Regions from separate parts of the Homo sapiens genome. Here all the other regions are reported to be linked to region 5. The links are microRNA targets in miRTarBase. Many come from high-throughput screens and were not tested one by one. Region 5 holds a microRNA gene; each other region holds the end of a gene's coding sequence.

What was found. The annotated mature microRNA hsa-miR-4789-5p reads GUAUACACCUGAUAUGUGUAUG and lies in region 5 at 2,448-2,469, shown strand. An mRNA with a match to its seed (bases 2 to 7 or 8) in the 3' UTR can be bound and repressed. Matches are read on the target gene's strand: a 7mer-m8 pairs with bases 2 to 8, a 7mer-A1 pairs with bases 2 to 7 and ends in A, and an 8mer does both.
Region 1: the mRNA of SV2B is a reported target of hsa-miR-4789-5p. The part of its 3' UTR that is shown has no 7-base or 8-base seed match.
Region 2: miRTarBase lists IRS1 as a target of hsa-miR-4789-5p. The part of its 3' UTR that is shown has no 7-base or 8-base seed match.
Region 3: the mRNA of RASSF6 is a reported target of hsa-miR-4789-5p. Seed matches in the 3' UTR shown: 7mer-A1 at 1,943-1,949 and 7mer-m8 at 3,790-3,796.
Region 4: miRTarBase lists B4GALT6 as a target of hsa-miR-4789-5p. The part of its 3' UTR that is shown has no 7-base or 8-base seed match.
Region 6: the mRNA of OPN5 is a reported target of hsa-miR-4789-5p. Seed matches in the 3' UTR shown: 7mer-m8 at 2,168-2,174.

What each region holds. Positions count from the first base shown.
Region 1 is chr15:91,292,247-91,297,323 of GRCh38, reverse strand. It overlaps SV2B (synaptic vesicle glycoprotein 2B), which reads right to left. Exons shown (of 13, transcript NM_001323032.3): 13 at 1-4,955. The coding sequence ends at 4,772. Among named protein-coding and RNA genes, the nearest start is that of CRAT37, 170 kb to the left of the region's middle.
Region 2 is chr2:226,790,571-226,795,646 of GRCh38, forward strand. IRS1 (insulin receptor substrate 1) reads right to left here. Exons shown (of 2, transcript NM_005544.3): 1 at 4,419-5,076. The coding sequence ends at 4,440. Among named protein-coding and RNA genes, the nearest start is that of IRS1, 6.7 kb to the right of the region's middle. RefSeq lists a silencer at 829-1,518.
Region 3 is chr4:73,571,673-73,576,749 of GRCh38, reverse strand. RASSF6 (Ras association domain family member 6) reads left to right here. Exons shown (of 11, transcript NM_177532.5): 9 at 19-137; 10 at 243-340; 11 at 440-5,077. The coding sequence ends at 515. Among named protein-coding and RNA genes, the nearest start is that of RASSF6, 46 kb to the left of the region's middle.
Region 4 is chr18:31,620,957-31,626,028 of GRCh38, forward strand. It overlaps B4GALT6 (beta-1,4-galactosyltransferase 6), which reads right to left. Exons shown (of 9, transcript NM_004775.5): 9 at 1,290-4,805. The coding sequence ends at 4,658. Among named protein-coding and RNA genes, the nearest start is that of TTR, 32 kb to the left of the region's middle.
Region 5 is chr3:175,367,105-175,372,181 of GRCh38, forward strand. It overlaps MIR4789 (microRNA 4789), which reads left to right and starts at 2,436; the gene lies at 2,436-2,517. The region is part of intron 5 of NAALADL2 (N-acetylated alpha-linked acidic dipeptidase like 2); the gene reads left to right.
Region 6 is chr6:47,823,134-47,828,210 of GRCh38, reverse strand. It overlaps OPN5 (opsin 5), which reads right to left. Exons shown (of 7, transcript NM_181744.4): 7 at 1,830-4,228. The coding sequence ends at 4,220. It also overlaps the pseudogene RNU1-105P. Among named protein-coding and RNA genes, the nearest start is that of OPN5, 44 kb to the right of the region's middle.

The DNA of each region.
Region 1 (5,077 bases), not on the chromosome of region 5:
TCCTCTGCAGCAAAGGGAGGCTGGATCGGCTGCAAGGCACAGCCCCTTTGCCCATTGCCCTTCCTTCTGCTTCCTGCCTGAATTGTGGATGTGAGGTTCAGTGCTTCAACAGCCATCTCAGCCCATGAGGCAGCCTCAGTGATGGAAACTGCACTAAAAATCAAGGAGTCTGAAGGCAGAAGGAGCGTGCTTCCAACAATCAGGCAGAAGGAGCGTGCTCCCAACGATCAGGCAGAAGGAGCGTGCGCCCAACGATCAGGCAGAAGGAGCGTGCGCCCAACGATCAGGCAGAAGAAGCGTGCGCCCAACGATCGGGCAGAAGGAGCGTGCGCCCAACGATCGGGCAGAAGGAGCGTGCTCCCAACAATCGGGCAGAATGAGCGTGCTCCCAACGATCGGGCAGAAGGAGCATGCGCCCAACGATCGGGCAGAAGGAGCGTGCGCCCAACGATCGGGCAGAAGGAGCGTGCGCCCAAGATCGGGCAGAAGGAGCGTGAGCCCAGCGATCGGGCAGAAGGAGCGTGAGCCCAATGATTGGGCAGAAGGAGTGTGCTCCCAACGATCGGGCAGAAGGAGCGTGTGCCCATGATCGGGCAGAAGGAGCGTGTGCCCATGATCAGGCAGAAGGAGTGTGCTCCCAATGATCAGGCAGAAGGGGTGTGCTCCCAACGATCAGGCAGAAAGAGTGTGCTCCCAACGATCAGGCAGAAGGAGCGTGCTCCCAATGATCAGGCAGAAGGAGTGTGCTCCCATGATCAGGCAGAAGGAGTGTGCTCCCAACGATCAGGCAGAAGGAACGTGCGCCCATGATCAGGCAGGAGTGTGCTCCCAACGATCAGGCAGAAGGAGTGTGCTCCCAATGATCGGGCAGAAGGAGTGTGCTCCCATGATCAAAGGCAGCCACTCCAGCCCTGGCTTTCCTTCCTCCAGATTCCCTTCACATGAGAGTAAAACAAACCTTTAACTTACTATAAACTTATTATAAATTGGTTTCTTTGAATTTGCAGTCATATGCCATCCAACATAATCCCAGGTCAGTTAGCACAGATGCCCCCTAGAAAAGCCAGATGTGGAAGTGGAGACACCTTTCCCAGGGCTACGGGGATTCTTACCCCACTCACCAATGTCCCTCTTGCATTCCTGGCCCCTATCTCTTCTTCCATGTAACCCTTTCTGTAAAACTGATTAGGTAAAAATCGATTAGGTCTGTAGAAAATGGGCAAGGGCATCATTTCCCTTACCTGGTTTATAAAGATAAAAAATTGGTACACTCCTCAAAGAAAAAAAAATAAGAGGGAGCCACCACATTTGGAAATCCACAGCTGACAAGTAAAGTAGTAGCAATCCTTTTACACATGAAAGGTGCAGTTTGCGGATTGTAAGGTCATCGTACTCGGTGTTTATGGCCAATTTAATATCCGCTCACTGCAAGTGGAATGAGGCAGGAAGCAGAAACTGTGGCCAGTTTTTTCATCACTGTGTCCCCAGGGCTTGGCAGAGAGACTGGCCCATGGTCAGGGCTCAATAAGGATTTGCTGAATGAATAAATGGATGGATAAATACTAATCTTTTTATGTTTAAACTGATGCTTCCTCTCATTATAGTAAAGCCATCAAGGGAATAGTCAATGAATGGTCTCAGGGAATGGCGAGTATTTGTCACATTGTCCCATTCCCCAAACTGCAGGCTTCCCCAGAACTGTCATGAGAGCATCACCTTAGGCCTTCTCGCCCACTCCTCACATTACATGTAATCTGGGCCACATCGTTTAACCTCTCAAGGTCCCCATGTTGCAAAATAAAAGTTGAAGGAAGCGATTCTCAATGTTTCTCCCAGCTGATTCAATCAATTTTGGAATACAGAAGAGACCTTAGTGCCTGAAAATAATCTCTAACCCCAGTCCTTAAGGTTTTCTTACAGTTATTTTTATTATTTAGTTTTAATGAACTAACACAACGTAGGAGGGAACGCTGGGTTGGGGTTTACTTGTTACATGACCTCAGGATGATGTACTACAAACTTCACAGATAGGCACACCTCTTTCACTAATTATTTTTAATAAAACAAAAGATCAAAAATCAGCATCAGGAGATGACACAATACAGTTGAGACTATGGAAAGCAACTATTTCCAAGCTGGGCATCATAAAATACATCATCAAGAACTGTGAACAGATTTGCTAAACAAAGGAAAGCCTCATCCCTTTAACCCTCCACAGCCGACATCGGGAGTCTCTTGGGGTAGAACATGAAGTGAAAAAGAAGTGGATGGCCAGAATGCTGTACATTGTCCCCCAGTGACCTGCCACAGAGACTATTTTTAAAGACGCATTTATCTCAGCAGGAGTGACGGCATTTAAGAAGTAGCCCGGTACTCAGGCTAGACAATCCTGCAAAAGTCTGCAGAGCTTGGCTGCACCCTTTACAAAGACCTGAGTGATGGATGAGATGGGAATTGCCCTTGATTGGCTAGGTGGCTGGTTTAAAGAGCCATAAAGATAATGCAGAAGTGAGATCTTGGAAACCAAATGGAGTTAGCCCCCAAATTATTGCAGCCACCCCAGCACTCCAATGTTAATCCAATTTTAAATTTACAAGATCCATCTTAACTAGAAATGCAGGCTCTAACTGTCCTGCAAGTTTTTTAAGTGGTAGCTGCTCAATGAATTGTATTATCCCATTAAAGAATAATGTTTTAGATGTGGTAATCCCAGACTCACACAATTCTCTTTTATGAACCTAGCCACTGTATTCATATGGAAAGTAAATTACAGCTATATTACATCGAGCCTTTCATTATTGACAGAGCAATAAATGTTAGTACTCCTATAAAACACTGAGAGAAAGATTAATACACAGTGGTATATATATTTGGAGGAATCAGGGTGTCCAGTCAGAGTCAATATGTCTTCTCTCCCTGTACAGAAAAAAAGGGAGGGGTGTAAATAAAAAGGTGAGGGTTGACAGAAGGAGAGTAAACATTTTAACCATTAAAACTGATCTCAAATCGACGGTGGAAAGGTGTCATAAGATTTACCCCTACCAACCCGTTAATTGAGGAAAATTACAGAAAGATGTCCCGAAGCTATCATAGGACCTAAGCATTTCTCCAATACTGAGAAAACACTCGATATAGCCATTATTATTCTGTTTTAAATTTTTGGAGATCTCTGCCAGGGAAAATGTGGCACTTGCCCATTGAGAGCACTGCAAATCAACTCAAACAACTAGTTCTTGCAGGCTGATGTTCATCCGGCCTGGGCAGGTGCAAGTTCACCTCCGCTGGCAGTTGTGCGTAGCTCACTGTCCCCTCCATTGTCAGACAGTTCTGATGTTTTTCCTCTTCCATGCAGTCAAGACTTCAGTCTATTGCTGACCTTCATCAGAGAGGTTTGTCCTAAGCTCCTCCCCCAACCCACACCCCTGTTTATGTTCAAAGCTGGACTTCAGGAAACAGTTCTCTTAAGCACTGAAGAAAAACATATTTGGCATCCACTACACTCCCTAACTCCCACTCCAATGGACTCTGTTTCAAAAGCTCTGGACACATAGCATAGATTTCTCATGAGACCTGACCATCCTAACAAATATGGATTGCATTTGCATTTTACCACTAGAACAAACAAAAAGTATTTACATTTGGAAGAACTGTGGCTACACTTCCCCATCCTTCCCTCAGTCCCCATGTTGTTTGATTCTTGCCTGCAAAGAGTACCAGAGGCCACTGAACACATCTCACATTGTTTTTGGGTAGTGGCAAAGTAAAATGCCAGCACTGAAGATGGTGAGCTTGAGTTTCACAAGTCATCTGTGTAAGGGAGAGAAGTAACTACTCACTACACCTGCACAAAGAAAAGTGCCTGGATTAAGCAGACTGCACAATGTGAGTTTGTTAATTCATCCTCCCAACAGAAAGTTAAATGGCTGTAAGAAATTGTGCTTGCATTTCATTTGATCAGACCTCATTTCCTGGGACCTCAAACACCAAGTTCTCCCAAAATATGGCTAAAATGCTGGCAATATTTGCAGATACCAGTTGTGGAAATTAAACCCAAATAAAGTTATATACAAACTTAGTTTACAGAATAACTATCCCATTCCGTTTCTTTGAATAGAGCAAAACAGAAATAAATATCCTTCTTAAATGTATTACCTAATTATCATGGAAAGCCTAGGAGACATAGGAGAAAAGTAGATCTCTATAGATGTTGCTCAAATACTTGGCTTTCTAGATCAGAGTATCCTCAATGCTACTATGTCAATTTTCGAGTGGAAAATATGATAGGTGATACTTTTAAATGCAAAAATATATACTTCAAGCCCAATCTTCATATAATGACTCTAACTTCCAGCCAAGTTGATTTGTTAAGTTGTTGGGCTCCAAGGAGCTTTCTGGAGGAACCTGGGTGTTTCTGACCCTCTAATTCCTTTTCAAACGCAAGTTAAGTCCTTGCACTTGACTTAGAGAAATGCTTGCTCCTCGCATAGTGTGTGCACTCACTGGAGAATCCTCTCCCTGCCTTGGACTGGGAAGACTTGAAGTTAAACACGCAGCTCTGTGATTCTAAGGGTGGCTCAGGGCACCCCCAAATCAGTCACCTGAGTTACAAACATATTGACAGCTGAAGTGGGTCCTAAACTAGGGGTCACAAAGTCAACTTCTCCTCCCGTGCTATCCAAGGTGTCCTCCGGACCGTGATAGGCAGGAAGTGTGGATGCATTTCAGTGTCCTGGACAAGATTCTCTCGACCTTTCCTTTTCCCATAGGTTGTTCACATCAGGACCTGTTCTCGAGTCTCTGGCAGTCGAAGGGCAATCAGGCCACCCCCAACCAGAGAAGCAGCAGCCAGAAGGATGGGGACCACTTTGGTTATCCCAACAAAAGAAGCAAAGATGGTGTTTCCCAGGATGGCGCCAAATTTGCATAATCCATTGAGAATGCCGAAGGCTGTTGCTCTGTAAAAGAGGAATGGAAATAATTCTGACATTCTGAACCACATTAGATGAACAGGACTGGGCTCTTTCTTTTCCTTATTGCAGGGGGAAGAGGGTGCAAGGGAGTTTTTTTTCCTAAATAT
Region 2 (5,076 bases), not on the chromosome of region 5:
TTTTGGGTCATAACATTTGCACCTGCTTGGTACGTTTCCACCTGTGATGTTTCACTTGGCCCCTCAGAAAAAGCGCTGCCCTGGGATCTTATGATTCAGTGATGCAAGAGGGATGTTGGCTGGTGAGAAATGCTTATTTGAGAGGGAAGGAGGAGGAGGAGAAAATACTCCCATAGCACTTTTCTTTCTTATTTTCCTTATTTTAGAAAGGCCAAATCTGAACACATTTTCCATCCCATGTAGTAATATATCTCACATAATTTTGGTTACTGGAGGGTACACAACACAAATCTAGCAAGCTTTCAAAATCGATGTGCCCAGCCTAAATTGACGGGCTGTCACTGGGACTGTCAATGATGGAAAAATGAATCTGTGTCTGAGAACGCCACAGCATTTCCTCCAAGCCTTTAAGGAACACACTACCCAAACCCTTGTCACACCGGGTTCTCAGGATCTGCAAGCTGCAGTCCCGTCTTTCATTTCGCTGTGAGCTCCCTCACAGCCCAGGAGGATGCGTTTTCCCAGCTCTTACCTAGCTCTGGTGCTTTGCAGTAAAGTGTATGGAGCCTAGGGCACTTTCAAGCCAAAGGAATTCCCCCTCCCCCCATGACCCAAAACGATGGCATCCGCAGCACTCGCAGGTCTCTCTCCCTCCCTTGGTTGAGGGGGGCGGGCAGGAATCGCGGGCCAACCCCACCTGGCCCGCAGGCCCGCAGCCACGTGCGGGACTCCCTCCTGCTCGCGGATCTCGAGACCGGAAGACGAAGGAACGTGGCCTCGTAGTAAACCGTAGTAAAGAGAGAAGGGAAACAAAATGGGGCTCGTCACATGGTTACGGCCTGGATTTTTCTCAATTAAAAATAAGAGCAAGTGTGTGTTTCCGGCCCCCGTCCGTGGGCTGGTTGGACTTTTTCATTCTTAGGATTCTGATCCAAATGCAAGAATACAGCTGAGGGCACAACGTCCTCAGTCGGCGGGCGCGGTGCAGAGGGGGCCTGCGGCTCGGCCTGCGGGCACCCGCGGGAAAGAGGTGCCAGGCAGGGTGGCAGAAAGCGGCCCAGGGACGCCCGCCCGCCACCACCGCCAGGGGACCCGCGGAGAGCCCCGCCCCGCGCCCGCCGCGGCTCAGCCGTTTCACATGCTGATTGGCTGTGGTGGGGGCCAATCAGCGCCCAACCGCCCCGCCCGCCCGGGACCCAGAGCCGCGCGGCTGTGCCCGAGGGCGGGGCCTCGCCCGCCAGCGCCGACCACGCGGCCCGGGAAGGGGCCCCACCGCCCTGGATGACCCGAGACGGGCGGGGGCGGGAGACCCGAGGGCGGTCTGGCTGCAGATTCCCCCACCCCGGGCGAAAGGGGGCTCGGAAGAGGGAGGAGAAGGAATGCAGGAAGCGGAGGTGACCCGGAAAAGGGAAAGTGCCAGGGCCGAGAGGGTTTGCGCCAGCCAAAAAGGCCACAGGGCTGGGGAAAGGGGAGGGAGGGGAGGCAACCTTGGAGGTACGGAATCCTTGACATCACAAAAAAGGAAACTGAATGAAAAAGAAATGGAAAGAGTCTTTTTCTGTTTTTTTTCTTTTTCTTTTTTCTTTTAAAGGGGGAGGGCATAACAAAGAATGACAAAAACAAAAAAACTGAACCCAAAAGGCATGGCTGGGGTCTGTGTCTTTGTCAGCTGCAGTTTCAAAACTAAAAGATAAATTTGATGCCAGGTAAAGGTGGCAGGGCTGCTATGACCGAGTCTGAGAGGCTCTTTTTGCCCTGCTTCTTGGGCTCTCAATTTACTCTCTGCAGAGAGTGGGCCACAAGTACTGCGAAATTCTGAAAAGGAGCAAAAGAAAAAAAGGATAATGTCAGGAACATGAAATAAGAGGTGGAAACAAAGGGATGGCAGGGGATAGTACTAGAAAACGAGCAAGCCAGAACTAAGAGGCTATGCAAGAGAAAGGGCAGGCAGAAAAGGTCACTGGACTACAGGTAAAGCAGACAGGCTTCCAACAAGTAGAGCTCCTGAGCTCAGTGCTTCACAAGTGTTCTCCTCTTAACAGACAATGAAAAATTTTAAACAAGCCGAGATGTTTCAACAGAGCCCACGCCTCATCATACCTCTATTCCTTTCACCGAGTCTCAGGTTTTACCTGAGAAATGAGGAAAAGAAGCAAAGACAGCAATTGCTGAGGAAGTGAGGAAAATAATGTTTGCACACACATTCGGAGCAGAAGCTGTTTGCCACTCACAGGTCTGACTTCTGTCTGTTTCAGATAGCTATAGAATAACATCTTTGGACTCAACAGGGCACAGGCAAGCAAGCAGAATTGAGGATGTAAATGTGCCAGGTAGCATTTGGTGCCTCACTTTAAACACCAACACAAACATCTCAAATACGCATTGTAGAATTTTCCTGGCACTGTGCAAAGCATGGTCGATTGTTACTCCAGAATTATTAGAAATAGGATTATATGATTATTCCAGAATATTTTATTTTCCCAAAGAAGGTTAAGGATAGAATTTTGTAGAGTTTTTGTTTTTTTAATGCATCCAACACATAGGAGAATTTTATTTTAAAGCCCTTTTTAAAAATGAAAATTCTAGTTGGTCATCAATTCTCTTCAGAGCAAACATCATTTATTCTACTCTATAAAAAGAAACCTAAACAAATTAAGATGACAAGTAAGAAAAACTTATTCTCTTTATCTCCTTTAAAACCAAAATTTTAGTTCTGCTGGGCTGGTTTTCTTCAAATTCTCATTATTTTACCAATGAGGCACTTTATAATACAAATGCTTAAAGTGTTGAGGGATTCTGACTCCCAAAAACATCATTTGATATAACAAGATTTGTACTACTGATGTTGATATACACAATTAAATCTTTCTTCTAGTGAATGATGAAAATAAATGTTGAAGTAAATACTGATCAAATAAATGCTTTTTGTAACATATCACCCAAAATCTTCATTTGAGTGTTCATATACCTTTTTCTTGTTCTATAAAATAGAGAATTATATGGATCAAATATTGGAAACAGAATTAAGAAGACTATGAACACATGATAAATAAATACCTGTCAATAGGAAACCAGGGCACAGATTAATTTCTTATGAATGGACACAAATTAAGAAAAATCAGTGCTTTTAAAAGCTCATTCTGTGGAGCATAGATAAAATTCACAAGATAATCAGTTTGTCAGAGTAAAGTGTTTCCAAATGCTGGAAACTTCTGCATTGCCAACTCATCACATTATTTGCAAACTGTACTCTCTTCTACCCACAATTATGACCACCAGAAAACAGGATCAACAGAACGAAGGGCAGGCTAATTTCCTATTACAAATGTTTTTCATTTTTAATACGGCATTAGCCACAGAAGACCTAAAGCCAACTTTCAGCATTTACTGTGGTGTCTACTTTTGAACTTAAAGGCACACAGCAAATAACCCTAAAAGTGGAGGGTATACAGTTTAGCCCTTCTACTCAATGCAAAACAAAACAAATTAAGGCATGTTCCTGACTTAGTATGCATTCTTCTCAACAAATAAAAGTAATTTTACAGAAGATATATAGTAGCCCCCAAATGATATCTGTAATGTCTCAGTGCAAGAAGAGATAACTATAAGGCAGACATCCTAGGATGAACTCCCATAACTCTTAATAATGGGTCCCAGACACATACAGAGTTTCCTGCATATCCTGTACAAGAGAGGCCAGGCCCGTGGGATGGTGGGTCGGTGTGTGAATAATATTTCACAAATCCTGGTACATGAACAAAAGGAGAACGTCACCCATAATTACTTTCTTGAGAGATCACAAAATAGATAGGTACTTCTCTCTAAATACATATTTCTAAAAAGCTCTTACTCCTGATCTTTTTAGGGCAGGATGAATAGAAATCAATGCTTCCCGCTGCTGTTTATGTTGCCCTAGTATTATGAAATCACAGAACAAAAGTACAGAGAACAACTTGATAAGATCACCCTTAAGGGCTCCCAGAAACTATTAAGATAGTTTAAGATAAGGAAGGGTTTAGCCCCTGTGTTAACAAATATTTTTTGTAGAACTGTCCCTTCCAGGGGCTGACCTAAATATATAGTGAAAAGAAAACTTCAACAAACAAATCAAGCTTCTTACGGAGGAACTCTACAAAACGCAGAACTGGCATAGGATATATGTTTTAAAAATACTGCAGTAACTACTTCACTTGGGAATTCTCAAACGAAAAAGCCCTCCTGTGGCTGCTCCTACATGTTTGTTTGACTCTCTGCCAGATGTCAGTGTGGGGTGAGCATCTTGTGTGCCCTGAGAATGTAAGTGCATTCTCCCTGAGGAAGCAGTGGGAAAGAACAGGAAGGGGCAGAGGCGAAGAACAGAATTCAAGGACAAGGTTAAAAGCAGTTTTGTCTTCTGACTTTGTCACCATGAAACGCACCTGCTGTGATGTCCAGTTGAGCTACTGACGGTCCTCTGGCTGCTTCTGGAAACTGATGCTGGCATAGGCGCTTAAATCCTCACTTGAGCGGCGGGTGGAGCTGCTCTCACCGCTGCCCAGGGGTTGATGAGGGGGTGGGGGTGGGGGAGGCTGCGGTTCAGGGGTGCACTCCTGAGGGCACTGTTTGAAGTCCTTGACCAAATCCAGGTCTATGTAGTTAAGACCATTCTCCAAACCCCCAGCAGCCCCACACAGTTTGGCTGGCTCCTTGGGGGCTCCCCCAAGCTCCCCAGGCCTCAGCCACACATTCTCAAAGGAAGCAGAGCTGTGGCGTTTCACATCCTCGCTGCTGCTGCTGCTACCGCCACCGCCCCCTACTGCTGCCCCCGCTCCAAAGGGCACTGTGTTGCCCACCCGGGTGGCACTGGGTGTTGAGGAGAAAGTCTCGGAGCTATGCCTCCGCCGGCACCCTTGTGGGTCTGCACGGATCACTTTGGCACTCTGGTTGCGGTTAGGACTGAGGTTCACCCGGGTGAAGGCGCTCATGCCCCCAGGTCCTTGTGGGCCCCCCAGCAGGGACGAGTGGGCAGCCAGCTCTGCTGCCCCTTGAGGCCCAGTCGGGGAAGCAGAGGCTGCTGAGGATGAGGAGGCAGCAGCC
Region 3 (5,077 bases), not on the chromosome of region 5:
TTCTTGTTTTCACTGCAGAACAAAGACGACTAAAGAAGACAGACATTCCGCTACTGCAGAGGCTCCTACAGGGACCTTCTGAAAAGAATGCTCGCATTTTCCTCATGGATAAAGATGCAGAAGAAATTAGCAGTGATGTATGAATACCATCACCCTGAATCTGTTTTTTGCTTCCCTCCTGACTCAGCACCTCTTGCATAATTGTTCTGCTTTCTTTTTTTTTTCTTCTTCTTCTTTCTTAGGTGGCTCAGTACATTAACTTTCACTTTTCTCTCTTGGAATCCATTCTTCAAAGATTAAATGAAGAAGAGAAAAGAGAGATTCAAAGAATAGTAACAAAGTAAGTCAAGAGCATGCACATTGGATACTCCGTTCTTTAATATGTCCAATGCACAAAATATGTCCAATTTTTAATAGTCTTTCTTCTTCTCATTTTCAGATTCAATAAAGAAAAGGCGATTATACTGAAATGTCTTCAAAATAAACTAGTAATAAAAACAGAGACAACAGTTTAGCAGTACAAGCTTCTATTGCTAAAACATTTCAAAAAACTCAGAGATATTACTCTTTGATGAATGCATAAGTTCTGTACTTGCATTTATACGAACATATATGAGACTTGAATCGTAGAAAATTGAATGTCAAAAAAAGCTCATTTCTTTTTGAAGTGATGAGGTTAATTAGGGTTCACAGTTGGACAAAATGAGTTTGAGTTTAGTTTCAGTAACTGAAATAAGCTTGAATACTGCATATGCCAAATAGCTTTTATAGTAAACCATGTAATGAACTCAAATTTAAATGGTGTCTTCAGATAAGCAGTTTAAACTTCATTTAGCTTGGACTCTCAAGAGAACTGAAACATAATCAATGGATTCAGAAATGACTCAGAAAAAAGAAGCTGCCAGTTCTTGGAATGAAAAAGAAATACAGTCTTACACCATCAAGGAATCTACCTGATAGTGACAGTAGCTTCTTGAAAACTCTGGCATTTTCATAAAATCTAGGACTATCTTAAATGGCCTGTTGACTTCTGACTATCTGTAACATCAGAGCTGTCTGGCCTTTGGAAAGGAAAAATTATGGACTCTGTTAAGAAATCCTAATTGAAATTTTCTGAACCTCCCCCCAGCCCTTTTATTCTCTCTCTTCTGCTGATGAAAGACCTTTCATCAGTTCAAAGCTTTTCTTAAGCTCTTTTTTAAGTTAATTGAACTTTTTCTTTATTTATTTTTCAAAAAAATGTTTATATCACATAGACATATTACATCGGCTAAAGTAAGACTTGGCCCACAAATACCTATTTGTTGCTGAATGAATACAATGGATAAAGCAAGGCTGTTGTAGCTGAAGTTACATAGGGAATCCCAAACTCTGCCCTCTTAGCATCTTATTCTACATGACAACTCTCAAGGTACTCACAGATCTGTTTAACCCACTTGAAAAAAAAACACTAAAAATGAAGAAATGCTATAAGTATAAACTATGATTTTATTTATAAATTCTGTATTAAAATGGAATTATATGCAACATTCTTTCATTCTGTAAACTAATTCCATTTGCATTCCTCATAAGCATTGTAGTAAATTGATCATATTACATGTACTAAGGAATGAGATTATATGCAGTAAACCCAACTGGAAGATTAACAATATTAAAATATGAAACATTTTTAAGACAAAGGCATTACTTCTCAGTATTACCAAACCTAAACTGGTTGAAGGTGAAAGTGTGCTATGGCCTTTTCAAGCCTAAGAAGTCTCTCTTACTGAGTAAACCAGAGGCTTGCATCGCTATTCTTTCACCTGTCAATATTAATAAGAAAATAGTCTCATCTCACTTAAATGAGGCAAATGTAATAGTTAAAATTCAACATACTTATAAAAAACTAGTGTCATGTACCTGCCATGAACATGACAAAAGGTTAGTCTTCAATAGACTGAAATGTATAAGAGAAGAACCAAGTCTTACATAGAAAAAAAAGGTAGATATGAAAAGAAAAATCACAGAAGAGAGAATGCAAATGGCCACTAAGTATATGAAAAAAGTCGTATCTTAACAGTGAACAACTGTGTTAGTCTGTATCAATCAGAAGACAGAAACAAGGTAGTAATTTAAACAGGGAAAGTTTAATATAAATAATAATTAAGCTATGATAGGAGAATAATAATAAAGATGAAAAGAGAAGGTACCCTAAGGCTGAGGGAAAGAATCCTAACAAGGAAAGGCAGGAATGAGGGTTTCAGAATTCACTGGAGAAGGTGTGGTTGCAGCCCACTGGAGAGAAGTTTGCTGGCTTGCCCAGGCCAGAGCAGGACCACAGATACTGGACAAGCTGGTACAGCCAACCCCCTAGGTGTGGACCAGCTGAGGCAGGTGGGCAGATATGCAGAGGGACTTGGGGCTTTGCCAAAGGGTAAGCACAAAGAAGGAGTCACGGGTTCTGTTCGAGGCACTGTTGGGATTAGGAGCCGGAGGGACCTACTTTGCAGGAACCTAGCATAACTTTGTGTGACGAGACTGCACAAGACAAAGCTCAGGCAAGTGGCTCAGTAGTTGGCCAGCCCAGCAGGGTCCTCTGTATGAGTGTGCACCCAGCTGAAGAGAAGAAATGGAGAGCAGCAATTGGAGCTTCAGGACCGGCTTGCACTGTGGCTCCAGGTTATACCACCACTGCCCAAAGCAAAAGCTAGAGAAGCAAGTGGAGAAATGCTGGAGAAAGCTGCACCCTACAGGCAACCAGCACTGCAGAAACCACTCCAGGCAAAGTAGTGAAGGAAAAAAGCCTGCTCTCCAGTAGCCTGGCCTGTCAGCCTGGAGGAATCAGGAAAGACCCCTTCCTCTTGCAGTGTGTCTCCAGCGCCCTCTACTGACAAAGTATGCCATCATGCAAGCTGCAAAGGAAACATTTCAAGAGTCTATATCTATTTTCACGGAGCGGGCAACCAACAGTGAATGTGGAGCTGAGAGACAGTAAAATAATAACTGACATGCCACCGAAGTACAAAGTAAAATAAATAAATAAATACACATTTTGGCCTATTAGCAAAGATTAAGAAATGATAACATTAAATACTCAATAAATCACCATGAGATGGGGACTCAAACTTCTGGTAAAAATACAAATAGATATAATTTTTCTTGAAGGCAATTTAGTAGTCTGTTTATCCTATAATTCTACTTGTAAGATCCTATCATATGAAAATAACCAGAGATACAAAGACATTCTGCAAAGATATGTTTTATATTGTTATTTATTGTGACAAAAGGAAATAAAAAGCCTAAATGTTCAGAAAATTATTTTAAAAGATGAAAGAGGGAAATAGGCCATGGACGGTGGCTCACGCCTGTAATCCCAGCACTTTAGGAGGCCAAGGTAGGTGGATCACTTGAGGTTGGGATTTCGAGACCAGCCTGGCCAACATGGTGAAACCCTGCCTCTACTAAAAATACAAAAAATGAGCCGGGTGCAATGGCAGGCACCTATAATGCCAGCTACTCGGGAGGCTGAGGCAGGAGAATCGCTTGAACCCGGGAGGCGGAGGTTGCATGAGCCGAGATGGCGCCACTGCTCTCCAGCCTGGACGACAGAGCAAGACTCCGTCTCTAAAAAAAAAAAAAGAGGGAAATAAACATTTATTTGTATATTGTTATGTAGCCATTAAAATTCTGTTTCCAAGTAATTTTAATTACAGGGGTAAATTCTTATATATCTAAATAAGAATATACACATACACATGTTCCAAAATATTTATTATGTACTTAAGGCATATATATTATATATGTATGTGTGTGTATATATATATGTATTTGTGTGTGTGAACACTAATATTTGCATATATATACACACAAGAAATAAAAACATGTTAAAAATGGCTATATCTGCATTGTAGAATTATGAGTGATTCATGTTTTTCTAACTTCCCTATCTGTATTAAGTGTTCTATAGTTTATATTTGTTACTTTTTACATCAGGAAATAGTAAAGTTATTATTTAAAACTTATGAACAAAAAAGTAACAAGCACATGCAAGCACAGAGTTCTACCAAATGCAAAAAATTTCAAATCAATTATTCAAATGAGACATTAACATCACTTCTGTGGTAGTTTTATATCCATAAAGTCTGATTCTTCTCCTTTGAAGAGATGAAGCTTAATCTTCCTCATCCTGAAAATGGGCTGGACTTAGTGACTTACGTCTTTTTATTTTATTTTTAATTGACAAATAATAATTGTATGTATTTATGGGGTACAATATTATATTATTATATATGTATACATTATGGAATTATTAAATCAAGCTAATTAACATATCCATAACCTCTTATAATTTCTTTGTGGTGAGAACATTTAAAAATGTACTCTTTTAGCAATTAGGGACTTACTTTTAATACAGGAAAATGGAAGAGACTGTGAGACTTTGAAGTAGGTCATAAAAGTCACTGTGGCTTCCTCCTTGCTCTCTCTTGGACCACTTGCTCTGGGGGAAGTCAACTGCCATGTCCTGAGCAGCCCTGGAAAGACCTACATGATGAAGAACTGAGACCTTCTATCAAATGCCAGCAGGGAATTGAGGCCTCCTGTCAACAGCCATTTTAGAAGTAGATCTTCCAGCCTCAGTCAAGCCTTCAGATGACTGCAGCCCTGTCTAATAGCTTGACCGTAATTTCATGAGAGACCTTCAGCCAGAAAACCCAAGGAAACCATTCTGGATTCCTCATCCTCAGAAACTGTATGAGATAAGAAGTGTTTGTTGTAGTACGCCGCTAAATTTGGGGCAATTTGTTACATAGCAATGTATAGCTCATACAATTTCTGGGAAAAAAATAGTTTATTTTCGAATCATTTTTGCATAATGCAAGAATATAAACTTGTCACAGAATAATTTATCCTTGTTTTAGGTGGTCCAAATATTTCATTGTCAGTTATATATTAGCTCAAATTAAATTTTAGATAATATATATTATTATTAATGGTAAAGAATGTGTCACATTTATCTTTATAGCTTTTCTGTACCTAATATTGTGTCTTGTGCGTAGGATGTGCTCAATAAAAATTGATTGAATAAATAAGTGAATGA
Region 4 (5,072 bases), not on the chromosome of region 5:
AGCAAATTTTTAAGGTCTATTGCAGAAGAACAATTATCTCAACATCTCCTTCTGAAGTACATGTTTACAGCTGAGAAATACGTGCTGGAGAAAAGCTGCTCCTGCAAAGATGCTCAATTAGTTAAACAGACAATCAACGTTTGCAAAGGACAGAAATGAGCCCCTCATTTGATAGCATGTGATTCTTCAGGTATTTCTGCTACATCAGTTTTACACAGAGAGGATGTAAACTCCTTGAGGGTAGGTAATGTCTGATACCTCTCAAGATCCTCCAGAGCACATACTTAAACTGATAAAATTGGGAAGACTGTATTAGCAAGGGCATGCAACCAAAATCTGTTAGCGGAATGTGTTGAGAAAGATGCAAGTTTTATTTTTCACACCGTTTTTTTTTCCTTTTCATTGCATAGTTGAGCGGCAAATCACTTTTCTGAAGTCGCTTAAATCAAGAGCAATACAGTACATGCTCCTTAAGAACAGACTTCTCTAAATAAAATTTTGGTCCAGAACATACCCAACCACCTTAAATCTTTGTCTAAAGATAGCACAAAAAGTGTGTGTGTGTACAGTGTGTGTGTGTATATAGAATATCAGGTATATATGATCATATATACACACACATACACACACACACACATATATATATGATCATTAAATGGAGTTACTATGTTTTCACCAGAGGGCACATTAGTACCATAGTGGGGCAGACTAAGCTGACTAAATTTCACGGCTTTAAATGATTATGATTTTAATGATTGGTTTTAGTTATGACATGCAGTGACAATATCCCTATAGATCATATTATACATAGAGTAATTACAACTCATTTCACAACTAGTAAGTTGATAAAACTCATGATCTTACAATCTAGTCTCAAATACAAATCTAGTCCCTAGGTATTTTTGAAATTTGGCTCTTTGCCTTAAAAATCATCGATACCTGAAAAACAAGTAGTAAATTGAGCATAACACACCAGCTTAGTTTATTGAAGTTGTGCAGGAAAAAGAAAATTTATGCTAAAATGAATTCTTAAATATTTATCTTGATATAATAGATTACTAATTGTTGTACTAATGAAAAATACTTAAATACTACTTTTTGAGATAAAAGGAATAAGGTGATCTCCACCTGTATTTAAGCTGTGGTTACCTTATGCTTATATTGCAACCCTATTGTCAACCAAGATATTCATCAATAATTCATTTAAAATTTAGGATAACAAACAAACAAAAATCCCAGGTAACCCAAAAAAGTTCCTGAGAGGAAAATAATTACATCTTCACACAAAGTCTTTAGAACATTATATTTCATAAAAGACAATGATAAAAAAGTACAAACATTTCCATGAGAAGCAAAAAAAGAAGTGGGATACAAGAAATTACTAGCATTTATTTCAGTGCATTTATGTAGAAGCCTTTCATCTAAATAAATAAAATAATCTTAAGTACACTTCCTCTTTCTGATAAACAATACTATAACCATTTTAGTTCTCTCAACCGGCATACTTGCAAATACAAGACAATAAATCTACAACAGTATGTATTTGAAAAACACATAAAGAAATATATCAAAGACAAGCAAAGGCCAAATAAAATGACAAAATCTGCTTTCACTTGTAGGAAGCCTCCAGAAAGAGAATATTGTATTGGACATTTTTCCATTTTGTTTTAAAATATCAGTATCTTGGCTGGCAAAAGGGTATATAAGGAAATTTTTAATACATAACTGTATCTACTTAATATTATAAAGTTTTCTTACTGAATAACTTTTCACAAAAACAAAAACTTAAATGTAGATTTAAAAAATACTCATAAAACCCTAGTTTTAGCAAAGAATTAACTATCTCCACTGTGAATTATATATAGTTCCAGCAAATGTGTACTCTTCTCCTTTTCTTCTCTACAGACAGGCCCATTAGTCATTACTTCTTTCTGTAGTTGAAAAGCACCATGTAATTTTCCCAGTTAGTGCCATAGGGACCTCCTATTAGCCCTAGGTCCACATATACGGGTTTCTTGACTTTGAGACTAGGAAATACAACAGATAAGTTATCAGAAGATGTCTTCATAATTTCAGAAAGATCTCAATTTGCTTGACTTCATTTGTTTAGAAATGAAGTAATAATACTCCTTCCATAGACATACCTAGCATTGCACTGGATATGGAATAGGCAATCAATACATGCTCATTAATAAATCCTCCAAACATCCTATAATTTGCATTTGCAATGTATTTGTTAATCTTTATGTAATAATTAATACAATGAAGATAAACGGGCACAGCTCTGTCACTCTCACAGAAACATATTAAGTTCACTGTTTATAGGCAAAAATAATTTTAGGTCTACACTAAAAAAGCAAAACAAACAAACAAAAAGCAAACGAGGTGGTTTTCACAGGATGACAAACTATATTTCAAAACTGAAAAAAAGCAAAATGTTTATATCTCACTCCTGAAACAAAAATTAACATCAGACTTAAGAAAATAAGGCAGATACTAGTAGTACTAAGTTTTCTTGAAACTGTAAAATATATATAAAAATGAAAAGATACCGAATGTGGACAGCTCCACATTGATCAACAAATGTTAACATTCTCAATCTCTTTCATTGACTTTAAAAACTATGTAATAGAAACAGAAAATGAACTAATACACAAATGAAGTACAAATATCATAATTTTCAGAAGGTTTGATTTTTCGAGTACCATAAAAAAACTGAAATATAAATATTTTGGAAATAGTTCTAAGAAATAAATATGAAAATATTTTGTTTGGTATCATAACACAGAAGCTATCCATTTTCTCAAAGTGTAAGGATTCAATTATTTTATGATTTAGTTTGTGGTCATTTGTGTTATCAATATTGCCATAAAAATGACACTTCAAAATAAAACTTACAATCTGAGATAAATAACCATAGTTCTGTTTTAGGTAAACAATCCTTGAGGCAAATATTATCCAAACGTTTCTCATATATAGATTTCTATTGCTCATCATTGTTGTTGAACATTCACTTTATAGATATTTAATTTTTTGTTTAAAATTTGTGAAAATATCAAGATATTTTAAACAATCTTTATAATTGCTAATTTTCAAAAAAGAATACTGTTCGGCTTTACTGTGGAAAAATTCATCCAAAATTAAGATATGTACTTGATATCAGGTAGTAAGACCTTTTTTCAGAGAACAGTCATATGAAGATAACTGGACAAAGCCCTGACACTCATGCAAACATGTAAGATATTACATATAGAAGACATTATGGCATCAGTGCACCAAATAACTCATCACGTATTTTAAGACAATGCTATTAAATTATGCTTTTAGATACTACATATAGAAGACATTATAATATCAGCGCACTGAATACTGATCATGTATTTTAAGATAATTCTATTAAATTATACTTTTAGAAAGAAAATTTTAGTAATTAACACCAGAGATATAATCTCTTAAAAGTGAAAAAAACAAAATATAGTTTGAATGAAACTAACATTCAAGGGTCCCCTCCAAAAGTGAAATTCTATGTCTGAAAACTAAACTTAAAATTTGTTTTTATCTACTAAGTATTTATCTTTATAAAAATAGAATATTTAATTCTTATCTAATAGTATAATTCATTTGTATATTATAAGTACTATTGGGTTTTCTTCCATAGATCATTCTTTTAAAAAAACTGACTTGATTTCTTTTTAAATGAAGATACTTTTTTTTGGCTCTTCTGAACTGGAAATAATAAAAGTGCTGTTCACCGTGAATTTAAAAAAAATACACAGTATAAACACACAACCTTGGAAACATTTTTTGAGGCACAAAATCCCTGACACACCAGAGGTACATGGAAAGACATTTAACATAAAGAGATCCTTTATATCATGTCACATCACAACTTTTAAGATTTTTCTTGGTAATACTCATGCAATATGCATAAACAATATGGTTGTGATTTCTAGCAAAATCAGATGAGATTGCAAGCAAGGAAAAACATAGGTAATCCCGGTAGGAAGAAAAGCTATTTAAGTCCTTCCTTCTTTTCCTTTAAAGCCTAAGAAAGCTGTGACTTCTTCCACACAAAAGGCTGAGGTCTAAAGCTCAAAACTAGTATAACAGTTTACTGTATTAGTTGGCTGTCAATTATTGACAGTTCCTTCATTTCACACAAGGGTTAACCTTTGTTTAGTGATGTAAATTTAGTGAGTTTTTTTCATGCAAATAAAAAATGTCTATAAAAGTCCAATAAAGGTATAACCGATTACATGCAAAACTGCAACACATCTAATTTTTAAACAATTTGCACACATTAATTTATATCACATATATACAAAATATGTTTAAACGGAAATAAAAGCATTCTCTTGAATTAAATTATAGATTTTAGTATAAAAATTTTCTCTTCGGAGGGAGCTCTCTTAACTTCCGATCTTAAGTAGTGGCTTCCCGTTTCTGCGGTGCTCGCCACAGGGGTGTGTCTCAGAGCAGGGAGGACGGGTGAGAGAAGGGTGACTGTATATAGTCCCACTCTGTAAACACTGTGGACTGCTGGCTCTTCTCAGAGAAAAGGGCACTGTGACACAGCCAATCACTGACCTCCACTAAGAGCGCGCTCCAAGTTTATGATCCAGCATTGTGGTCTACCTTGCCACGACAGCCACTTCTTTTAATAGTCTTCGATTGGAGCTAACTCTGGCATGAGGTTTACAGATATGTTTGTATACAACCTATCAACCAGTATTTTTGGCCTATATATTAAATTGTTCAGTCCATCGATGTACTGACGCTCCTTGGAATACCTTAGTAATTTATACCTATAGTTTTAGAGGAAAAAACAAAAAAGCAACAAAACATGTTCAAAAAGGAAAACTGATAAGGACTGTGTTCAAGGTCATCTTATAATTAAAGCACTTAATGCCCTTTACAATTTCTGGTTCTTGTGCATAATTTAAGAATCTCTAAACCATTATTCTAAATTAGCAATTTTACTACTCAAGAAATGCCACCTGAAAAAATTATTTTGCACTTTTACAATTAGACATCTTTAATAAATAAAACATTATGCTTTATGTTACGTAAAT
Region 5 (5,077 bases):
ATTAAATAGGGAATCCTTTCCCCATTGCTTGTTTTTCTCAGGTTTGTCAAAGATCAGATAGTTGTAGATATGCGGCGTTATTTCTGAGGGCTCTATTCTGTTCCATTGATCTATATCTCTATTTTGGTACCAGTTCCATGCTGTTTTGGTTACTGTAGCCTTGTAGTATAGTTTGAAGTCAGGTAGCATGATGCCTCCAGCTTTGTTCTTTTGGCTTAGGATTGACTTGGCGATGCGGGCTCTTTTTTGCTTCCATATGAACTTTAAAGAGTTGTTTCCGATTCTGTGAAGAAAGTCATTGGTAGCTTGATGGGGATGGCATTGAATCTATAAATTACCTGGGGCAATACGGCCATTTTCACGATACTGATTCTTCCTACCCATGAGCATGGAATGTTCTTCCATTTGTTTGTGTCCTCTTTTATTTCCTTGAGCAGTGGTTTGTAGTTCTCCTTGAAGAGGTCCTCCACGTCCCTTGTAAGTTGGATTCCTAAGTATTTTATTCTCTTTGAAGCAATTGTGAATGGGAGTTCACTCATGATTTGGCTCTCTGTCTGTTATTGGTGTATAAGAATGCTTGTGATTTTTGTACATGGATTTTGTATCCTGAAACTTTGCTGAAGTTGCTTATCAGCTTAAGGAGATTTTGGGCTGAGACAATGGGGTTTTCTAGATGTACAATCATGTTGTCTGCAAACAGGGACAGTTTGACTTCCTCTTTTCCTAACTGAATACCCTTTATTTCCTTCTCCTGCCTGATTGCCCTGGCCAGAACTTCCAACACTATGTTGAATAGGAGAGGTGAGAGAGGGCATCCCTGTCTTGTGCCAGTTTTCAAAGGGAATGCTTCCAGTTTTTGCCCATTCATTATGATATTGGCTGTGGGTTTGTCATAGATAGCTCTTATTATTTTGAGATACATCCCATCAATACCTAATTTATTGAGAGTTTTTAGCATGAAGCGTTGTTGAATTTTGTCAAAGGCCTTTTCTGCATCTATTGAGATAATCATGTGGTTTTTGTCTTTGGTTCTGTTTATACGCTGGATTACATTTATTGATTTGCGTATATTGAACCAGCCTTGCATCCCAGGGATGAAGCCCACTTGATCATGGTGGATAAGCTTTTTGATGTGCTGCTGGATTCGGGTTGCCAGTATTTTATTGAGGATTTTTGCATCAATGTTCATCAAGGATATTGGTCTAAAATTCTCTTTTTTGGTTGTGTCTCTGCCTGGCTTTGGTATCAGGATGATGCTGGCCTCATAAAATGAGTTAGGGAGGTTTCCCTCTTTTTCTATTGATTGGAATAGTTTCAGAAGGAATGGTACCAGTTCCTCCTTGTACCTCTGGTAGAATTCGGCTGTGAATCCATCTGGTCCGAAAATAGTTACATTTTACAAACGAATCTCTAACACATTTTGGTATCTTTTTTTATACTTTGAAAGGACTGTAGCAGGTGTGTGTGAGTGTGTGTGTGTGTGTGTGTGTGTTTATAGCCAGTATGTATATATGTAGCAAATACGTTCATGTGCCATTTAATAATGGAGATGCTTTCTGAGAAATGCATCATTAGGTGACTTCATTGTTGAGAGAACATCATAGAGTGCACATAACACAAACACATTGTGTAGCCTCCTAAACAACTAGGTTATGTCGTATAGCTTATTACTTCTAAGCTACAAACCTGCATAGCATGTTATTGTACTGAACACTGTAGGCAATTACAATGCAGTGGTATTTGTATATCTAAACATATCTAAACACAGAAAAGGTACAGCGAAATATGATATAAAAGATTAAAAAAAATTGCCACCCCTGTATAGGGCACTTTTCATGGAACTTGTGGGAGTAGAAGTTGCTCTGGGTGGATCTGTGAATGAGCAGTGAGCAAATGTGAAGGCCTAAGACGTTACTATGCATTACTGTAGGCTTTATAAACACTGTACACTTAGGTTACACTAAATTTGTTTTAAAAATTAAGTAATTGCACTAATGTCACAATGAGAACAATGCCACTAGAGTTTTTCAGCTCCACTATAATCTATGGAACCACCCTCATGTATGTGATTTGTTCTTGAGCAAAATGTCATCATGCAGCACCTGACTGTATATATATGTAGCAAGTATGTGTGTGCCTGTGTGCGCGTGTGTATATATAAATGTTACATTTACATACACCTGATATGTGCATGTGTAATTATATATGTAACAAGTATGTGTGTGCCTGTGTGCGTGTGTGTACATATACATGTTACATTTACATACACCTGATATGTGCATGTATACATATATAGGTAACAAGTATGTGTGTGCCTGTGTGCGTGTGTGTACATATACATGTTACATTTACATACACCTGATATGTGCATGTATACATATATAGGTAACAAGTATGTGTGTGCCTGTGTGCGTGTGTGTGTATGTGTATATATACATGCTACGTATGTATACACCTGATATGTGTATGTGTAAATACATATCCACACACATAGCAGGTGTATATATAGGTAGCCTGTGTGTGTGTGAGTGCATGTGTGTGTATGTGTAGCAGGGGTTTTGTGTTAGAACCAAGAGCTTGGAACTGGTACAATGAAAATATTTTGCCTGAAAGATATGCTTAGTAAAAGTCCCAAGTTTCACACATTTTTGAGGCTCAAAGTGAAGAACTCAAAGTGAATTATTAGGTAATCATATCTACTTCTTCCTAAACCCTTCATCTGATTGTGTGCTAAAATTTAATACTAACTGATCTTTCCATCTCCATAAAATTCTTTGAGATAACAAAATCCTACATTCCGGTTTCTGAAGGATGGTATTCTGCAAATGTGAAAGTTTCCCTTAACCTCCAAAAAATAATTGGGTTAATCCAGCTACCACAAGTGTGAAATTGAGAAGCTGCTTGCTAAGATTGAATTTAATATTGTCACATGTCATCTGAGAGCTGCTTGTCTGATCATGTTGCCACTGGACAAAGTAAGCCTTACTACAAAGGATAAAAGAATGATTATTTCAATATCCAGTCATAGTTCATCATCAAACTCTGAGTAAAATGGAGAAAAAAAGACGTTTTATCTTATATGACTCTATGCATTTCTCTGGGAAGTCATTTATCTGGTTGCTATCCAGGAGAGCAAAGATAATGGGAAAAATCTTCCACTATTCTCAACTATAATTTTAAATATCAAATTTTAATAAAATAGGTTTTGGTTATTTCTTTTAAAAGCCCTCAATATAAGAAAATGAAATGTTAGAAACTTATTTTATAAAATATATTTGTGAACCATAAAACCCCATATAAAATGGAAATTATTATCACCATTAACTACTGATGCTTCTAATCTTATTCTGTAATGGTTAAAAAATGACTAGAATTTAGAGTTACTGCCAATATATGGGGGGGGGAGGGATTTTATAAAAATAGCTTTATTCATTTGCATGTTAAGCAAGAGTGTGATTACTGATGGCCGTAAGAGTCACTTGCTGCTTTAAGCTCTGCTCTGCTGCTGACTCTACATGTGTAGCTTTGAGAGGTCCTTTAGCCCCTCCAGCTTTCCACATAGGCAGGATGTGGCTATTGTACTTGATGATATGCCAAACATGCTTCTGATTCCAACATTCGATGGTTCTGTGATATTTCTACCTTATTACAAAAGACATTCACTTTAAAAGTATAAACACCGTAGTAACTTTTTTTCTTTCATTGTTTTCAATAAAAGGGTAATGGAAGTAAACTGACAAGTTTAGGAGGCTTTCAGAGCATAAAGGAGAAAGGCTGGCAGCTCTTGAGAACCTCTTTGCTTTCAGCTGAGAGCAAGTAGAGAATGCTTGCTCTCTGGCCCTGAATGTCATAACATTATGTTCAGAATCATTGAAATGTCTGACAACACTGTTGATTAAAAATGAGAATCATTAGGCCATGTCTGCCGTTATAGGATGAAGGGTAGTTTGAACAGTATGGAAAAAAACTATCCCAAAAGGATGATTTGTCTTAGACAATATTACCAAAATTTCAAATTATACTATGTATAGTAATTTGCAGTAATTCACTTTTTTTTTATATTTAGCTTCATCTTAAAAGTTCTCCTTCATTGGTAATGCTTTGAAAAATGCTGGATTTAGAATTATGAAGAGACTATCAACTAATATTATGGATGATATTATTATTATTATTATTTTTTGAGACGGAGTACTCGCTCTTTCGCCCAGGCCGGACTGCAGTGGCGCTATCTCGGCTCACTGCAAGCTCCGCCCCCCGGGTTCTCGCCGTTCTCCTGCCTCAGCCTCCTGAGTAGCTGGGATTACAGGCGCCCGCCACCGCGCCCGGCTAATTTTTTGGATTTTTAGTAGAGATGGGGTTTCACCGTGTTAGTCAAGATATGGATAATATTATTTAGAAACCATTCTGTGTGCTACAAAAGTCCTTTGAGAATGATATGAGCTGGGCACGACGGCTCATGCTTGTAATCCCAGCTCTTTGGGAGGCCAAGGCGGGTGGATCACCTGAGGTCAGGAGATCAAGAGTAGCCTGGCCAAGATGGCGAAATCCCGTCTCTACTAAAAATACAAAAATTAGCTGGGTGTGGTGCAGGGGCCTGTAATCCCAGCTACTCAGGAGGCTGAAGCAGGAGAATCACTTGAACCCAGGAGGCGGAGGTTGCAGTAAGCCAAGATCATGCCACTGCCCTCCAGCCTGGACAACTCCATCTATTAAAAAAAAAAAAAGATAACCACTAAAATGGCTATTATTCATCTTTCAAAATCTGTAATACCTGGAAGTTCTGCATGACCTTTAGGAAAACTACATCCACAAAGCGTTCCTTCTAGTTTCCTAATAAGTTTTAGAAGAAATATTGCCATTCTGAGCTAAACTAGTTCTACTTCCTTAGGGCAAATTCCTACCATAACATGAAATAGACAAATATAATTACTCTAAAAAAAGTCCAGCCATAGCATCTTAGAGTTTAAAGGAATAACCCTTAGGAGTTCACAAAATTTTTTTTCCACTGCTTCCTAGGCAGACCTCATTTAGTGTAGCTGGCGTGTTGCCCTGCAGACTTTACTGAACTGCTAGTACA
Region 6 (5,077 bases), not on the chromosome of region 5:
ATTATACCATGTGGAAAAAAATCTATCACATTTGCTTACCTTGACCTACTTTAACGAAGTGATAACACTCATTATTTGCAGCCGTACATCCAAATGTTCCCTATCTCCATGCAAGTTTGTCTCAGCCAGAATAAATGCCCAGTTAATCAGAGGTGTTTAGTTTGCCTTGCTAATGCTCTAATAATGCTGGTGCTTAATTCTCTGTAGCTATTACACAACTATCCTTCTTCCCATAATATCTTTGAAAATAATTGCATCTGTATTTTAATTTTTGCATATTTTTTTTTTTTTACTCAGGGAATAATATACCAAACATGTCATCTAGAAAATAATACATTGACCTTGACAAGGAATGTGAGATAGATGGTAAAGAGCCACTCTTCCACCTCACCATTTGGTCCTCTTCCCAGCTATATCATGGATACCTTCACTGAGGAATCCCTGAATGGTTCCACAGAGCCCCTCCCATCACTGTTGGGCCATGAACTGGAGCTTCCAAAACAGCCTGGGGATGACTGCATATCACAATGAGCACTGGCAGGGTTTTCCACGTGTAAAGAAGCAATGGACTATGATGGTAGTTCACAGTTTGTCCTAAGAAAACTAAATCTTTAGATTTTCCTTTCCTACCTGAAAATATACAAAACATGATATAAATGCTAAGATAAGCACTAGACCTTGCCTCTGAAAAATCCTGAAAACAATATTAACACTAATGGACTCTCCACTATCAAGTAACTCTGGATTAAGGCAGTCTCCCTTCCCTCCCAGTTCTTTGGTTCCCCAGTGTACACCAACCAGAACAAGCCAGGAGTTGGGGGAATATCCTATTTGTCAATGCAATATTCATGGTGCAGCTAAAAAAAATTGCCCTGGACATAAATATCAACATTCTGATTCCAGCTCTGTAATGAACTTCAAACCTCTGGCAAGATATATATCTTTTCTGTGTCTTATTTGCTAAATTAAAAAAAAATGCTTAACCTAATTTTTTTTGAAAGGCATTGGGAAGTTTAAGCCAATAGAGGTGAAAATAATCTACAAAGCACAAAACAATTTTTCTATGGAAATAGAAAATATTACTAAACAAAGTTCTTAGCCTAATGACTCTGATTGTGTATGTTCTGTTGTATTTTTGTTTCCCTTGTTAGCATAAGAAAATAGGAGTACAACATTATTGATTAATAATATTTTCTACTTCCGTAGAAAAAAAATTGTTTTGTACCTTTTAGATGATAGAAGGTACAAAACAACTTTTGTACCTTTTAGATTATTCTCTCCTCTATTGTCTTAGATAAACTTCCCAGTGCCTTTCAAATCAAAAAGTGGAATACATTAAAGCCACCAGAGGATGCTCATGTCATCAGATATTGTTAATACCCCTTCTCCAACTGCATAGCATGAGGGTTGGGAACTCAGATTCAAGAGTCATTCAGACCTGGGAGAAAATCTTGCGCCTGCTATGACCTTTACCAAGTTATTTTCTATTTCTGAGCTTCAATTTCTTCATCTGAAAATGGGGTAATATGTTCATCTGTCAATCTCACCTCATAGGATTCTTATAAGGATTAAATGAAGTAATGCCCATAAAAAGCATTTAACAGAAAACCTGACACATAGTGAGTGCCTGGCAAATGTGGTAAATACTGTCTCTTAACATTTCTTCCTCACAATGTAAATAGACTCTCCTGGAAATAAAGAATTCCAGACTCAATTAAGTTTGGAAGATACTGCTTTAAATTAGTTCTTAGGTGAAGAACCATTAATGTATTCCCGTATGGGACAATTCTTCAAAAAAGAGAGATGATATCTAACACTTGCCTAAAACGTTTGGAGATTAGAACACTTTATTTTTGCAGTAGTTTTGCAGGACTAGGTTTCTGGGGATCATGCTTTGGGAAATCTTGTTCTCACAAATAAGATATTCATAATATTTTCACGAAATCCCAGGATCTCATTCGTCTCAAAATAATGGGGAGAGATGGGGAAGGAAAGAGGTGGATGAGTGTCAACATGAACCACAATATGCTATGGGTTGATCACTATTGAGGCTGGATGATGGATACATGGGAGTTCATCGTAGGATTCTTTCTCTTTTGTACATGTTCAAAAAATTCCATTAAAATTTTTTAAAAGATATTAAACAAACCAGAAATATATATATATGTATACACACATATATGTATTATATATACCTACATACATGCTGTATCTTAATACATACACCAAACTCTAAGAGAAATGGCTAACCTCCCGAGGTCTACAGACCCACTCGAGCAAAAGTAAATCATCTGCTTCTTTCACTAACTTGGCAATGAAGCTCTTCTCATACTTCGGAGCCTAATGAGGTCAACTGTGGTGAATGGCAGTCAAAGGAGAACCCAACTGGGTCATCCAGAGGCAAGTATCATCTCTACTCATGTCAACCTTCTTCCCTTCTTCCCCATAAAGCCTTTTACAGAAAAAATAGGGGAATAGAAATTATATTTTTAACTTAATTTTTTTCTGTCATATTCCTGCCAGATGTGCTACTACAGTCAAAATCAACCAAGGTTTTGACAGGAGGAAAAACAGAATCAGTTCTTGAATAACAGAGACTTGAATCACCAAACATTCAATGGACGTGGTACAACAGTAGTTTTGACTTGAAGACTCATGTTCATCTGTCATTTTAACTGAAGCTGTCTTTTGGGAGTGCCAAGGTTTCTAGCTGCCAGGGAATCCTAAGGACTTGCAATTGGCCTAGAACCCATTTCACTTGCCAAAGTACCTAACTTATTACATTAAGAAAATTCTCTCTCCTGATAACAACAAAATCACCAATCAACTATCACTTTTTGGCTTTTTAGACAAAAATTCTCCCTAACTTCTCTCTTGTTCTAAATGTTATTTTAACCATACCTCACTACTTTTTATTATGCCCAATTAAAGGTACTTGCATATTTGCATCGTGTCTTTCATGGTTTAAACTCACTTTGGCACATTAACAAAATCCTATTATTGTTTATTTAATCTTTAGAAAGTTCACAGATAACTAACCTACCTGTCACCAAGATTTGTGTTTATGCATTAGGCATTTCCCAACTGGACCATTTCACAGACTCCTGGCTGGCCCTTCTCATTCATTCATTATGTGTTTACAATTCACTCAAAATTTACAAGATGCTTAAGTTTGTTTCTATTCTCTAAATTTCCCCTTTCCACTCTCCCCCTGGCCTGGCATAATGACTTTCTTCTTTATGTAAGAGTTACCTTTAAAATTAAGGTAGAGTCTTCTTACTTTGTTTCTGTTGCATAGTTTCCAACAAAGTAAAAAGAAAGAAGGGAAAAAGCTATTTTATTGAATTATGGGGATAATTTCAATCGCATTTGACAAAAAAAAAAAAATTGATTCAGGTTGTCTTAGCTTAACCTCTTATTCTTCAAAGACTTTTGAGAGGAAGCATCCCGAGGAGCTTTAAGTAGGAAAAAAACACATACACAAGGAAGTAATTCAATTTCAAGAACTGGACAGTTTCTGCCTACATGGAACTCACATCTGGGAACCTGCAGTTGGGCTGGGGCAGTAACCTACATATTAACTGTAGTAAGAATATTTGGGGAATAGAAAGCCCACACTCTCCTCACTGAAACTGGAGCTGGCCTGGAAAAACTTGAGAGGTGCTCAGATGCTGTTGTAAAGGCATCAGGGACAAACCCTACTGATGATGCTTCTTATCAGTGAAAGACCCCCCTGCACTGCTTTGCCAGTCATAAAAACAGATTTTCACCAATCCACACTCACCTCTGCCCAGTACATCATCTGCAATAGAACAAATCAAATTACAGATGGGGAGTGTAGCTGCTCCAGTCAGAGACACAGCCTGATCTCCTTGAATCAGGCTTTTCAGGCCAGCTTTCACAAGCCCCAGTTCAGAAGAAAGTGAAGTCCTTACTGACGAGACCGAGGTGTGCACTGCAGGATGTTTAAAGCGTGGGTTTCTGGCACTCTTTAGTTATAACTCTGCCACTATACCAGAATGAGATAACTCAGTTAAGATACTTGGATACTCCTAGGGTGCATCATTGTTTTGATATTCCTTGTGAATTATTTTTTCCTGACAGGGTAAGTGGAGTGGAGGCGAGAAGTCAGAAAAATAACATTTGTAAGCTAATTTCTCTGCATATGCCAGACGCCGTGTAAGCACTTCAGATGCACTCTTCACAACCAGAACATTTGTTATTCCCACTGTAGAGAAGAAAAAATTGAGTTTTAGGGTGAGGCACACAGCCAGTAAGTGGAGAAAGTCCAAAACTAAATTCAGAGCCTAAACATACCACACACACACACCAAAAGAACCAGGATTGCGATGGACATTGTCACTGAGATGGCTTCTCCCCGAACCCACAGAGTCCTCTTTGCAGGTGCATCCTGCCCTGTTCCCTTCCTGGATGTTCTAAAGGCCACAATTCTAGTTCAGGCTCCTTTCTTACCTATAGAATCTCCAAAGTCTCCCAATACATATCCTGGTCTTCTACTCCTAAGCATTGCCTAGAATGAAATGCAAACTCCAAAGACTAACCTGTAAGGCCTTGCAGGATCTTCTCCCTACTCACCTGTACTGCCTAATTTTCTCCCATATACCCTTCCTTTTCATTTTTTAAGACTTTTTTTTTGCCAGAAGAGAGCGTGAACACAGTCCCGCACTACCACAAATTGTGCAGTAGAGTTTACCATATTTGAAGGTATCTCAGGGATCAGCACATCTGTCCTGAAATAGATAAGGCTTGCCATGGGAAAACAATCTTAGGATTTGTGGCGTCTCCCTGCCAGGTACGTATCTTCTCCTACATACCCTTCAATCCATCTGATATAAACTTTTGTCTGTCTTCCAGGTATGACTCAGCTGGGGCTTCTGGTTATGTCACTCCACCTCCTTCTATGCCTGAAAACTTAATCTGTTCTTTAAGCTTTTGCTTAAATAGTGCTTCCTCCTTGAAGCCAAACTATCTCTCCAACCCCTGACTCTGCCTTTTCTGTTTAAGTATAAGCTCCTTGAGGGTTAAATTTGTGTCTCATTCAACATCAATATGCAAT